2 linked regions of the Homo sapiens genome follow. The main gene of each other region encodes a partner of the protein of the gene in region 2 in a complex. Each region holds a gene or a part of one and is shown on either strand. Other genes may lie near its edges. A codon is read from its position in the direction of its gene.

What was found. The genes of interacting proteins can lie anywhere in the genome.
Region 1: the proteins of CRHR1 (region 2) and UCN are in contact, whole or in part, in a cryo-EM structure (PDB 6PB0), measured with the Homo sapiens proteins. Residues at the interface, in NP_004373.2 of Homo sapiens: Leu106, Asn107, Glu109, Lys113, His117, Val120, Asn123, Trp169 (codon at 863), Val172 (codon at 872), Gln173 (codon at 875), Ser177 (codon at 887), Pro178 (codon at 890), His181 (codon at 899), Gln182 (codon at 902), Thr192 (codon at 1,134), Tyr195 (codon at 1,143), Asn196 (codon at 1,146), His199 (codon at 1,155), Phe203 (codon at 1,167), Phe260 (codon at 3,844), Gly261 (codon at 3,847), Lys262 (codon at 3,850), Pro264 (codon at 3,856), Tyr270 (codon at 3,874), Tyr272 (codon at 3,880), Gln273 (codon at 3,883), Met276 (codon at 3,892), Ile277 (codon at 3,895), Tyr327 (codon at 4,462), Phe330 (codon at 4,471); in NP_003344.1 of Homo sapiens: Asn84 (codon at 747), Pro85 (codon at 744), Ser86 (codon at 741), Leu87 (codon at 738), Ser88 (codon at 735), Ile89 (codon at 732), Asp90 (codon at 729), Leu91 (codon at 726), Thr92 (codon at 723), Phe93 (codon at 720), His94 (codon at 717), Leu95 (codon at 714), Leu96 (codon at 711), Arg97 (codon at 708), Leu99 (codon at 702), Leu100 (codon at 699), Glu101 (codon at 696), Leu102 (codon at 693), Ala103 (codon at 690), Arg104 (codon at 687), Thr105 (codon at 684), Gln106 (codon at 681), Gln108 (codon at 675), Arg109 (codon at 672).

The regions. Positions count from the first base shown.
Region 1 is NC_000002.12:27,306,900-27,313,241, forward strand, and holds UCN (urocortin preproprotein), read right to left. Parts: upstream 1,547-6,342; 5' UTR 1,261-1,546; intron 1,010-1,260; 5' UTR 997-1,009; coding exon 622-996; 3' UTR 501-621; downstream 1-500. Other genes in the region: mitochondrial inner membrane protein Mpv17, read right to left, coding at 3,013-3,082, 5,000-5,052, 5,315-5,347, 5,595-5,690, 5,781-5,873, 6,095-6,210. UniProt on the Homo sapiens protein: Acts in vitro to stimulate the secretion of adrenocorticotropic hormone (ACTH). Binds with high affinity to CRF receptor types 1, 2-alpha, and 2-beta. Plays a role in the establishment of normal hearing thresholds.
Region 2 is NC_000017.11:45,829,302-45,836,323, forward strand, and holds the end of CRHR1 (corticotropin-releasing factor receptor 1 isoform 2 precursor), read left to right. Parts: coding exon 1-20; intron 21-259; coding exon of another isoform or gene 260-346; intron 347-792; coding exon 793-913; intron 914-1,115; coding exon 1,116-1,269; intron 1,270-1,578; coding exon 1,579-1,639; intron 1,640-3,836; coding exon 3,837-3,909; intron 3,910-4,150; coding exon 4,151-4,236; intron 4,237-4,412; coding exon 4,413-4,548; intron 4,549-4,705; coding exon 4,706-4,747; intron 4,748-5,322; coding exon 5,323-5,463; coding exon of another isoform or gene 5,464-5,512; 3' UTR 5,513-6,527; downstream 6,528-7,022. Other genes in the region: LINC02210-CRHR1 (CRHR1-IT1-CRHR1 protein), read left to right, coding at 1-20, 793-913, 1,116-1,269, 1,579-1,639, 3,837-3,909, 4,151-4,236, 4,706-4,747, 5,323-5,512.

The sequences.
Region 1 (6,342 bases), on a different chromosome or scaffold from region 2:
CGACCCTGCTCGAGAGCCCGCGCTAGAGTCGGGGAGGATCTGCGCAGAGACCGCAGCATCACCCAAATCGGCGCCGGCCCCGGGAGGATCTCAATAAAGAACTCGAGCGTCCCAGACCCGTATCTCCTTTCGCTGCCCAACCCCGCAGCCTGGGCTTCGAAGGCGACCCGCCCACCATCCTGCCCTTCCCAGAACCTGAGACCGTCTGGGGGGCGGAAGCCAAATGAACCCCTATTGGGCACCTCTGTGATGCCAGGAGCGAACTGGTGAGCCCAGCGCCCTGGGAAGAGGGCCGAGGGCGGGGCGGTGGTGCCGGGACCTCTGAGGTCCTGGGGATTTGGGGACCCTTGGGGTCCACATGCACCTGGCTGACCTGGCTGAAAGCCGCTGTCTCGGAGCCCCCCACAGCATTTTGTTCCCCTCCCGCTGGCCCGGGGGCCCCACCTTCCCACGGGTTCCCACGCTGCTGTGACTGCCCTGCCTCTACGACAAAAGCCAACGGGTCTTCAGTACTTTTATTAAAAAATAGTCACGCAGACAGTGCCCTGGTGGCTCTGCCCCGCATCCCAACTCTGGGGTGGGGGAAAGGGGTCAACGTTTTCGCAGCCCCAAACCGGGCCATCACTTGCCCACCGAGTCGAATATGATGCGGTTCTGCTCGGCGCGCTCCCGCTGGCTCTGCGTCCGCGCCAGCTCCAGCAGGGTCCGCAGCAGGTGAAAGGTGAGGTCAATGGACAGAGAAGGGTTGTCCCGCCGCGGCCGCTCGCCTGCCGTCCCGAGTCCCAATCGGCCGGGCCCCGCGCGGCGCGGGAAGCGCTCCGCCAGCAGCAAGAGGAGCGCGCGGGCCCCGCCACCCTGGTTCCGTGCCCCGGGGCTCCAGCGCAGACTCGGGTCCTGGACCCCGGCCGCCTCGGGGCTCCTCTGGCTGCTCCCAGGGCACAGCTGTACCAGGAGCAGCAGCGCGGCCAGCAGCGCTGCGCGTCCCGCCTGCCTCATGGTGCCGCCGGCCCTGGACACACAGGGGCAGCGCAGGGTGAGGTGCGCCTGGGACAGCTGCAGGCCGCCGCTCCCCTCCCCGCGCTCGCCCGGCGACCCCTCCGGCCGCCGCCCAATGCCCGCAGCCTGCCCTCCAGCCCCAGCCACTGCGCCAGTGCTGTTCCATCCCTTCCACCCAGCCTCCCTCCCCGGAGGAGCGTGGTGGCTGAGCTGAGCGGAGTCCTGGTGCAGGGGGAGGCTGGGCGGACGCTCTGAGCCACTCACAGGTTGTCGGCGAGCGTCTGTACGGTCCAAGATTGAGCTCCAGTCTCTGTCCCTCGGGGCAGGCTGAAGACGCCTTGGGGAACACAGGGTCTGTCCCGGGGCTGTCGCCAGCCTTATATAGTGCCAGGACAGCTCCGACTGACGTCAGCGAAGAACATGCACTGATTGTAGAAGCAATGACAGCCACAGCTTCGAGTCTGACGGCTGGCGGGCCCCCGGAGGGGCGCACCTCCCTACACCAGCCTTCGTGCCCCTGGGGCTAGCGCTGGAAGCAGCACTGGACGCAGGAAAGCGAGAAGCCGGCTGGGGCGTAAAGACTGCTCTGGGACCCACGGGAGTCCCTCGCCCCGCTTAGAACAGCCAGCAATGACTAGGGCCGTCCCCAGACCAGACTAGTCCGGGTCGCGTGTTCTGACACACGAAAGGGAGGCGGGACCGTGAGGCTGTCCATGGTGCTGACCCCGTCCTCTGCCTCTAGAAGTGGCCAGAAATGTGAGAACGCTGTGCCGCTGGAACCCACTGCCTCCCTGCAGCTATCAGTTCTGCAAATGCAGGCATCAGGAGTCCACCGCTGGCACTCAGCCAACACAGTGGGACCCACTGAGAGGCAGTCTGCCACAACCAAAGTCTCCCAGCATTCTTATCTTTTTCCAGCCCCAGGATCCAAATTGTAGGGCTGTCTGACAGGCACCATGTAACAGAGGGTCTCTAGCATCCGAGTGCTTTCAGACCACAAATGGCTGGCCCATCTGCTTTTGAGTTTGCCAAAGTAGTTTAGCAAAGTTCAGTTTCTCTCCTGGGAATCATAGCAGCAGTGTAACTCTGCCCATGAGCAGCAAAGAAATATGGGTTCAAGTTTCTGCTAACTCCTGGTGTGGACAGGTCACCTCCCTCCTACCAACCTCAGGGTCCTCATTTGTAAGACTGGGCTTGGCCAGGCGCGGTGGCTCACGCCTGTAATCCCAACACTTTGGGAGGCCGAGGCAGGCGGATCACGAGGTCAGTAGTTTGAAACCAGCCTGGCCAATATGGCGAAACCCCATCTCTACTAAAAATACAAAAATTAGCCGGGCGTGGCGGTATGCGCCTGTGGTCCCAGCTACTCAGGAGGCTGAGGCAGGAGAACTGCTTGAACCCAGGAGGCGGAAGCTGCAGTGAGGCAAGATCGCGCCACTGCACTCCAGCCTGGGAGACAGAGCAAGACCCTGTCTCAAAAAAAAAAAAAAAAAAAAAAAAAAAAATTGGGCTTGGTGGTCTCTTGGCTTCTTTCCAGCTCTAGAAATGACTCCCCAATAGTTTTCTGCTTAAAAACTTACTCATTACCACTGCAGATTCCGGATTACATATTTAATAACATATTTACTGAGGCACCATATAAAGGGTTCCGGGAGTCTCTAAAGAGCTGGAGCTACAAGAAGCCTAGGCAGGGTTAGAGTAACAAATGTGTCTATGAAGAGTGGGGATGAGTGGCATTTGCTGGGATATGGGTGTAAAGTTGATAAGGTCATGAAGGTTCAACAGATATTTATGGAGTGCCTAGTATGTGGTGGGAATAAGACTATTATCAAGGGCTCTAAAGCAGTCAGTGTACATTTTAGAGTGAAGAGGGGCATTGCAGGGTGCTAGTCCTCTTAAGCTCTGACCGGCAACCCAACCCCGTGGAAACTGGTATGCCCACTTTGAGGAGGTTGTCTGACCGTTCCAGGGTCAAGCTGCATCACTGCAAGGTGGAAACGATGGAGTGAGGCAGGCTTAGAGCCGATGTGCCTTCCAGGACAGGTAGGAGTTCCAGATAACAGCAACACATTGGACAACGGCCAACCTAAGGAACAGGAATAACACAATGAAGAGGAGGAAGGCTAAGCAGTGAGCAAGGGCTGGAGATGGGAGCATGAAATGGCAAAGGAGGGATCATGACAAAGGATTGGCAGGTTTAGGTCTCTTTCCTTCAGCACCTTTTTTTTGAGATGGAGTCTCCTCTGTTGCCCAGGCTGGAGTGCAGTAGCACAATCTTGGCTCACTGCCTCCCGGGTTCAATCAATTCTCGTGCCTCAGCCTCCCAAGTAGCTGGGACTACAGGTGTGCTCCACCACACCTGGCTAATTTTTGTATTTTTAGGAGAGACAGGGTTTCACCATGTTGGCCAGGCTGGTCTCGAACTCCTGACCTCAAGTGAGCCACCCACCTCGGCCTCCCAAAGTGCTGGGATTACAGGTGTGAGCCACGACACCCAGCCCTTTCAGCACCCTATGAAGGGCCTGTGTGGCTTGCACTAAAGGACAACTGGCTCAAATTCTAGTGCCATCCCAGAGCTCTGTTTCCTGGCTGAGAGCCTCAAAGGCTAAATATTCAGCGGCTCTCTTGCCATGCATAGCTCTGTTAATCACAGAAAGGGCCCCTATCTGGGCCCCTTCTAAGTTCATTGATCTGTCTTGTACCAGCTGAGATTTCATCTTCCGAAATGTACGGACTATCATATAAAGTAGCATCTTTCTGTTTTAAATTAACCTTGCTCTGGTTTCAAAGAGTGTTGCAAAGGACCCTAATGTTTAGGATTTGGTTCATAAGTCTGTATTCCTTTTTTGTTTTTTCGGGTTTTTTTTGAGACGGAGTCTCGCTCTGTTGCCCAGGCTGGAGTGCGGTGGCAAGATCTTGGCTCACTGCAACCTCCGCCTCCCAGGTTCAAGCGATTCTCCTCCCTCAGCCTCCCGAGTAGCTGGGACTACAGGCACCTGCCACCACACCCAGCTAATTTTTGTATTTTTAGTAGAGACAGGGTTTCAACATATTGGCCAGGCTGGTCTCGAATTCCTGACCTTGTGATCCACCTGCCTCAGCCTCCCAAAGTGTTGGGATTACAGGCGTGAGCCACTGTGTCCAGCCTTTTTTTTTTTTTTTTTTTTTTTTTTTTTTGGAGACAGGGTCGTCTCACTCTGTCACCAGGCTGAAATGCAGTGGCACAATCTCAGTTCACAGCAACCTCCATCTCACAGGCTCAAGTGATCCTCCCACCTCAGCCTCCCGAGTAGCTGGGACTACGGGCACATGTTACCATGTGACTGGCTAATTTTTTGTATTTTCTGTAGAGATGAGGTCTCACTATATTGCCCAGGCTGGTGTGAAACTCCTGGACTCAAGCAAACCTCTTGCCTCAGCCTCCCAAAGTGCTAGAATTACAGGTGTGAGCCACCGTGCCCAGCCAGTCTGTATTCGTTTTAGCTATGCTACTCATGTACATTTTGGCCCTGTTCCCTCTGAAGCGTTCCATATTTTCCCCTGTTCCCACGATCCTTCACCTTCAAGCATTTGAACCACACATCTTCAGTGCCACTATCTTTTTGGGTGCAGTTCAGCAACTGTCTTTATTGTGAGTGTCTGACCAGGCTCCTACTTGGCCTTCTGGTCTACCTCTCTGTCTAACCTAGGCTGCAGCACCCCAGCCACTGTCCCTCCAGATATGCCATCAAAGACGGAGCTCAGGTGGGATGGAGACAAGGGTGGTAGAAGCAGGATCCTCCCTAGGGAGATGAAGAAGGTCAGTGGGCAGACACTCTGGGACAGTTTCCGGAAATGGCAAGACATTCTGAATAACACGCTTGGGAATCTGAGGAACTCTGATCACGGCTCAGTGTTCCGTTTGGGGGTCTAAGGTAGCTCAAGGTTGAAATGAGAATCATTTTGTCTCCAACTGTTGGTAACGTGGGTCTTCCTTGATGGGTGGGGTAGGGGTGCAACATACCTGTAATGAAGGGGGACCAGGTAGAAGTTGGCTAACTGCACAGCAGGCCATAGCTGCAAGAGAAAATGTAAAGGTTGGATGGCTGCCCCACCACCTGACCCCAGACTCACTGTCTTGCCTGGCCCTACCCCAACTTCTGCACACAAGAAAAAGGTGAACAGTTGGGTGATGGCTTCCCTATTTATGGTGCCCATCCTGGGAATGAAAGAGTAATCCCAACGGAAGGGTTTCCCATGTCAGGAGGACCCCCCAATCCCAGGACAGTTCTAGACTTAAGGAAGCAGGAGAACAAGCAGTTGAGGTGTCAGCTCTTACATAGTAGTTGGTGATAAGGGCATCAGGATAATCCTGGGGAGACAGAGAAGGAACAAATTAACACTTGCGCCTCCAAGCAGCTCCCACTTCCCAGTATGAATGTCACACACAGACTTGGGTTCAAAGAGCACATTCCTGCACCATAACCCTCAGCTCCTCTCCTCCATGGCCTGGGGCCCTACCTGCACTTACCCCCTTTTTTATCCCTGTAAAACCTGTCTTCTTCCCCTGGGCTGTCAGCCCGCCAGCCAGAGACATTCTCCACACCTGCCCAGCTCACCCGCTGTAGTTTGGCCCAGTTGTCCTGGGCTGACAGTCCATTAAGTGCCCCTACCAGTGGGAGAAAGCAGCCTAGAAAACACGGGGCAAAGCCCCCCTAGGGAAGAGAAATTAAAGTCCTATGAGTGCTGAAATCCCCACCTACCCCCAACACAGCTCACCCTCCCCACTCTGTTCTCCTGCTCACCTGATCCAACAACATCTTCTTCAGTGCATCCACTTTGGTGGTGCCAGGGATGAACCGATCCAAAACCTTGTACCAGCCTCCTACCACAGGGCCCTGGAAGTAAACCCCAGATAGCAGCAGGCTGCAGTGAGGGAGCCCTAGGCCTCTACCTCACTAAGCTCCCTGCCCCAAGTATCAGAATAGGGGAAGTGGACACTAAGAAAAAAGAGGGCGGCAGGTTGGCTTAGGTGTGAGAGTCCAAGGGAAGCCAAAGGATGGCAAAGAACTAAGACCACTGTTGAGTCCACTGAAGCCCTGTTGAGGGGAGAACTTACCACAAAGCCACAGCCCAGGGACACCATGGTCAGAGTCCGGCCTCTCTGGTGTTCCTGCAGACCCCGCCTCTCCACCAGCTGCTGTGAGATAATGTCACCCAGGCCCATCAGGGACCCTATGCAGGGTACACAGGTGTTGTCAGGACATCTCCTGGGATGGGCTGCCATTCCAAGGAGGGAGGGACATCTGCTGACCTCCACTGAGGCTCTGGTACTCTGAACCCCAGGGCTTCATTGTGGAAACAAAT
Region 2 (7,022 bases):
GTCCTCTTTCTGCGGCTCAGGTGAGAAGACCCCAGCACTGCCTCCTCCTGTCCCCAGGACCTAGAGCAGAAGCAGGGTGGAGAAGTGAGAGGAGCAGCTCTAGGTTGGGGTGGGGGTTGCTGGGAGAGGGTGGCAGGGGCTGGCTTATCTGAGAGTCTCAGGTCTCTGGGAACCTCTGGCAGAGCCGCTCTGCCCTCTCCCCAGTAGCTGCTGGAATGGTGGGGAGGGACAAAACTTGTCTTATGTCACCCATACCCAGGCCAGGCTGCACCCATTGGGGTGACCAGGCAGATGGAGCCCTGGAGGTGGGGGCTCCATGGAGTGGTGCCCCATTTCAGGTTCGAAGGTACCTGGGCCCCAGCACTACCGCCAAGGATGCAGGTGGCAGAGCCGGGGATGGGGATGGTTGGGATCAGGAGCCGAGCATCAGGGCTGGAGGCTGGGAGCAGGGCTGACCCCTGTGACTGTCCATCCTGGAATGGCAGGGAGTAGAAGGCACCCCCAGGGGAAGCGGGCATCGCCAGGAATCCAGCTGCCCTGGTCCATGGAGCACAGGCTCCATGGAGTGCCAGGCTCTGCCTGGGGCTTATGTCTGGGTGGGCTGCAGGCAGGAAGGGCTCCATGGGGCATTAGGAGAGCCTGGCTGTCACCTCCCTGTGTGACTTGGCCAGTCAGCCCCACCCTGTGCCTCAGTTTCCTCATCTACACATCTGGGCTGGGGTGATGGAGGTGGCCTACCCCTCATCCTCTCTCTCCTATCGCTCCCATCATCCACCCGCCCTGCTGCACCAGGAGCATCCGGTGCCTGCGAAACATCATCCACTGGAACCTCATCTCCGCCTTCATCCTGCGCAACGCCACCTGGTTCGTGGTCCAGCTAACCATGAGCCCCGAGGTCCACCAGAGCAACGTGGTACGTCCTGGCAGGGGAGCGGGGAGCAGGTCAGGCCAAACCCAGGTCAGAGGAGGGGCCCGCCTGCCCTGCAGAGGAGGAGCCCACAGAACAGGAGTGGGATCCCAGGGTATGCCCTGTCCTGCCCTGGGGAGGCCCAGGCCCAGGGTTTGGTGCCTCCCCTGCCCCCCATCATCATCTCTGGTTGGGGGTGGGGTGGCAGGGCTGGTGCAGGTTGGTGACAGCCGCCTACAACTACTTCCATGTGACCAACTTCTTCTGGATGTTCGGCGAGGGCTGCTACCTGCACACAGCCATCGTGCTCACCTACTCCACTGACCGGCTGCGCAAATGGATGTTCATCTGCATTGGCTGGGGTGAGCTGGGCAGCCACCTCCGCAGCCTGGGCAGTGGCGGCCGCCGGGCTGCCCTCTCCTCCAGACTCAGGCCAGCGGGCTGGGGGGCCTGAGGGATGGAGGTCGGGTTGGGGCGGTAAGGTGTGCACGATAGCCCTCTGCTCCTCTTGGGGGTGGGCGGCAGTAGAAGCACCTTGAAGGAGGTGTGTGAGTTTGAGATCCACCCTGAGTAACCCCAGACCCCCTGGAGCCTGGGCTGCACTGGGGTTCTCCAGGCCCACATCCTCCAGCCCCCGCTGAGGGCTCTGTGACAGCCCATCTCTCCCCCAGGTGTGCCCTTCCCCATCATTGTGGCCTGGGCCATTGGGAAGCTGTACTACGACAATGAGAAGTAAGTCATCTCCTTTCCCTTCCTGACCCCAAGGTTTAGGCTCCCAGCCCAGCTTGGTGACACTCCCCACGGGCATTGGCCATGCTGGCTTTTTCCCCTCAGGACCATGGTTTCTGCATCTATAAAGGGAGAGATCTGGGGGCTGGACTCATTCAGAGGGTCCCTGCCTGTGCTCTGCCTGGGTGGGGCTGGACAAGCAGGACCCAGCCTCCTTTATCTGCCTTGAGCTTACACAGGAAGCAGCCTGGAGCCAGACTGCCCAGGTTCAAATAGCTGTGTGACCTTGGACAGATTACTGCAGTGTGCCTCAGTTTCCTCATCTGTAAAATGGACATGCTACTGCCTCAAAGGGCTGTTGTGGGGTGATATGAGTCCATCTATATTAAGCATTTACAATAGCTCCTGGCACATAGAGTAAATGCTATATAAATGTGTTCTATTAATATTAAGACATCTTAATAAAAGAGTCCATGAATTTAATAGAAGTGGACCTAGATGATCTCAGAGGCTTCTTCCAGCTCTGAAGTTCTTTGGTTCCTTATGAAATGGACTCAGATGTTTCCAATCGTGCCTGGAAACTTGATTTCTGCTGCAGTGGAGCTCAACTTTGGCTCACATTAGAATCACCTGGAATGCTTGGAAAAGTACCAATGCCCAGGCTTCACCCTCAGAGAATCAGGCGCAATTGGTCTGGGGTGTGGCCTGGCACCCAGAAGTCTTGAAAACTGCCCAGGTGATTCTAATGTGCAGCTCAGATTGAGAACCACTGAGAGAGAGCGGGGCAGAAAAGGTGGACATGGATGGCAGGGGAGCCCCAGGACCTTCTTTGCCAAACAAGTGTTCCCGGGAACCTATCTGACTGACGGACCTGGCGTCCAAGTGGCCTCCACCACAGTGACAAGCCCTCTCCTCCCCCATGGAGGGGAGGGGGCCTGCACGGCTTCATTGGGCTGAAAGAGGAGCCTGGAAGATTATCTTGCGTGTTTATGTGGTTGACTCCCTCCTGACTCCCTCCTGACTCAGGCTGGCTGAGGCCTTGGGAAGCCGAGGCAGGCGGATCACTTGAGGTCAGGAGTTTGAGACCAGCCTGGCTAACATGGTGAAACCCCGTATCTACTAAAAAAAAAACAAAAAAACAAAAATTAGCTGGGTGTGGTGGTGCGCACCTGTAGTCCAGCTACTCGGGAAGGCTGAGGCAGGAGAATCTCTTGAACCCAGGAGGCAGAGGTTGCAGTGAGCCAAGATCGTGCCACTGCACTCCAGCCTGGGCAACAGAGTGAGACTCCATGAGTCTCAAAAAACAAAGCAAAACAAAAACTGTTTGGGCTAAAGGAGAAAGTGAGTCTGAGCGGCTCTGAAGCTCCACCTGGTGGTGAGAATTCAACACTGCAACAGAGAGGATCTGGGTGTGAGAAACCAGAAACGAACTTGCAGACCAGAGGCCCGAGGACTGGACCCGGCCCTCAGAAGCTGTGTGTGGCCAGCATGGTGTTTTCTGAAAACTCGATTTTGTAGCCAACCTTTAAAAAATCCAAAGGTTTCATTTACAAATCTCAATTTCTGGCTTATGAGATCTAGCCACTGGGGGTCTTCATACCCACGAGGACATAAGGGCTTCCAGTTTGTCTGGTCCCCACCCACTCCCCAGGCCTCCCTGGAGCTTGCTGGAGGGACACTCGGGAAAATGCAAAGCAATTACCTCCTGCAGCAGGTAGAACCTGTGCAAGTATTCCTCTCAAGGTTGTTCAGGCTGTGACTGGACAGATTCAGGCTGAGATTGCGAACTGCTGGGTGCCCACTGGGTGACAGGTGTGGTGCCACTCCCACCAGCAGCCCCCCAGAGGGCATGCTGGGCCTCAGCCACTGCCAGGGGACTGTGAGGAGGAGCCGAGGATGCAGCCTCGTGTTGGGCCCATGCCCGTTCCCAGCCACTCAGTCTTTCCCACTGTCTACCTCCTGCCCCGGTGCTTGCTTCCAACTTTGCATCTCATCACAGAGGATGCTGTCCGTTCTGCAGATGGGACAATTGAGGCATGGCAGTGGGATCAAGTGACTTGACCTTCTGCCAGGGTTGGAATTGGGACATCTACCTCTTGGCCTCCAGCCCCAGTCCTGTCCTGGCCAAGCACTGTCCCTCCCCATGCCATCGAGGTGGACGCAGATGACCCTTCCTCCCCTTTCCTCTGTGGCCTTCTAGGTGCTGGTTTGGCAAAAGGCCTGGGGTGTACACCGACTACATCTACCAGGGCCCCATGATCCTGGTCCTGCTGGTAAGAACCTGGGTAGGGGCAGGAGACAGGGCCCAGTGGGGAGGGGCAATCAGTGCCAACCGTGGACAGAAAGGACTCCTCTACCTAGAGGTGGGGGCCACCCAAAGAGGGGGCATGGGTCAGAGATGTGCAGGTGCTCATGAGGAGGAGGGAGAACAGCAGGGGCACTGAGGCCAGAGCTGAGAAGCCTGGGTCCCAAGCCTCTTGCACACTCCGGCCCGCTGGTGTGCTCAAATTGCAGATCAATTTCATCTTCCTTTTCAACATCGTCCGCATCCTCATGACCAAGCTCCGGGCATCCACCACGTCTGAGACCATTCAGTACAGGTAACCGGGTACCACCTTCCTCAGGCCTCCCCCTGATGAAACCCCTGCTCCCCATGCCTCTCACGTGCCAGAGACCTGCCACTCCCTCCCCCGACCTGGCCCTCTTTGCCGAGCCAGCGGGCAGCCCGTCCTGGGGTGGGCTGTGACTCCGAGCCTCCCCACCCGCCCCACCCCAGGAAGGCTGTGAAAGCCACTCTGGTGCTGCTGCCCCTCCTGGGCATCACCTACATGCTGTTCTTCGTCAATCCCGGGGAGGATGAGGTCTCCCGGGTCGTCTTCATCTACTTCAACTCCTTCCTGGAATCCTTCCAGGTACAGCCCTGGAGGGACACATCAGCACCTCCTTGGGTGGGGATTCTGCCAAGCAGAGGCCTGGAGGGCAGGAGGCCAGGGAGAAGCAAGGGGCAGCCCAGAGGCTGGGTGGGCAACACCTGCAGCCGACCTTTGACGCCTCCTCTCTCCTCCCCAGGGCTTCTTTGTGTCTGTGTTCTACTGTTTCCTCAATAGTGAGGTGAGGACCCGGGGGCCCTGCAGCGGGGTTCAGGGCTGTGAGGCCTGTTGGGACTGGCGATTGTCTAGAGCCTTCTCCTCCCCTCCCAGGGCTGCCTCTCTCCCTCCCTGCTCCTAGGTCCCTAGGGGTATGCTGCTGGGAGCCCCAGGGTGGCCCCTCCCACCTGTCCACTCCCACAGTGACAGCCCCCTCCTTTGCTCTCAGAGGCCGCTGGCACCAGGCTGGAAGCCAGAGCTCCAGTATCTTTGATGAGCCTGTGAAAACCAGGAAGGGCTGAGCCCTGGGCAGGGGATACATGTGGGTTGAGGGCAGGGAGCCTTCATGGCAAAGGGCATATGGTGCCTTCGTGTGGGTTAGAAAAGGGTGCCCCTTCCCCAGGACATTTGAGAAACCTGTTCCGACAAATATGCAAAGCAGTCGTGTTAAGGCTGTGAGTGTCATCCCCTACTGAGGACTTCCATGTACTCAGCTGACCTGCACAGCCGCTTACCTGCACAGCTGCTCGTGGCGGCCCAGGGGAGGGAGGGGGTCCTGAGCCACAGGCTCAGATGTCGTGCTCCTCCCTGTGCCCACAGGTCCGTTCTGCCATCCGGAAGAGGTGGCACCGGTGGCAGGACAAGCACTCGATCCGTGCCCGAGTGGCCCGTGCCATGTCCATCCCCACCTCCCCAACCCGTGTCAGCTTTCACAGCATCAAGCAGTCCACAGCAGTCTGAGCTGGCAGGTCATGGAGCAGCCCCCAAAGAGCTGTGGCTGGGGGGATGACGGCCAGGCTCCCTGACCACCCTGCCTGTGGAGGTGACCTGTTAGGTCTCATGCCCACTCCCCCAGGAGCAGCTGGCACTGACAGCCTGGGGGGGCCGCTCTCCCCCTGCAGCCGTGCAGGACTCTAGCTCATGAGTGGAAAGTCACCTACAGGACTGGGCCGGGCCCAGGGCCTCTGGCTTCCCTGCCCAATCCTCCCTGGAGAAGGGACATGGGAATGAATTGAAATGGGGCGCTGGACACCTACAGCAGCACGCATGTCCCTCCAAGGCTGTCTTCTCCCAGAGCACAAGAAGGCCAGCCCACTGGGCCCTGGGGCTGCCCTCGGCAACCGTGGGGAGGCCATTTGCTGCCCTGGGGCATCATGGGCAACTCGTGACAGCCTCTGACTCACCACGATGACGCCTCTGGACCTCGGTGATGCCTTCCGACACCACTGGGAACCAAGGGCCCTCACTCAGGAACCCTGGAGACAGAAGTCAGGTGTCATCATCAGACTTGCGGCCACAGCACTAGAGTCACCCCCCCAGGCCTCCAGAACCTTACTGGCACTGTGGCACTGCCACCAGCAATGCCCTGCCTTGCTGCCTTCACCCTGAACATTTAGTACCCTGCAGGCCAGGCCAGCTTCCCCTCACTTAACCACCCCATACCAGTCACCTCCTGCTCCTTTTCCTCTTTTGTGAGAAGATGGGGGCTGGAGGGGGCAGAGTGGCCTGTGAGCAAGAGCCAGGGGTGTCCCAGTCCCAGCCTCTGGGGCAGAGCTTGTAGCCCTGGATGGCCTCTGGGGCAGGACCACTAGCTAAGCAAGCCAGGAGAAGACCCCTGCCCAAGTGGCTCTTGGGACAACGTGCTGCTTACACTCCAGGTGTGGACCGGCCGCAGCCCCCACTGACCTGCCCATGTCCAGAGGGACTGGACAGCCAGGGCAGGGCTTTGGGGGGCACTAGAAGATGAGGGTGTCGGCTGTGAGGCGGGTGGCTGGTATAAATAATATTTATCTTTTCAACCAGCATTTGTGAAGGCCTGGACTCCACAGGGGGCTGGATGGAGAGGGTGTCTCACAGAGGTGGGGGCTGCTTCCCAGCTTTCAGGGGCTGCTGTGTTGCTGAGAAACCTGACCCCACTCTCACCCCGGCAAGGATGGTGCCAGGAGAGCCCCTGAGGGCCGGGAGAGGGGTGAGGGCAGGAGGGAGGGCTTCGAGGAACAGGTGGGTCTGGCCAGGGCCCCCTTAGTTAGGGACAGCTTGTTGTGAGGAGGTGAATTAGAGGGAGAGGAGGGCCACGGTTAGGGATGCAGAGGAGGGACACCATGGGTCAGGGGAAGGAACAAAGGAGACGGGAGTGTGTCCCAGCCCCAGGCAGGAGCTGTGCTGATTGGTGGGAAGCAGAATTAGGATGCTGGGCCACTGGACAGGCTGTGAATGCAGCTGTCTCCACTAGGGCCGCCACAAGAAGCCATCCCTGAGACCCTGAGGTTTCTTGTGCAAACTCGAGGGAAGGGGAGTAC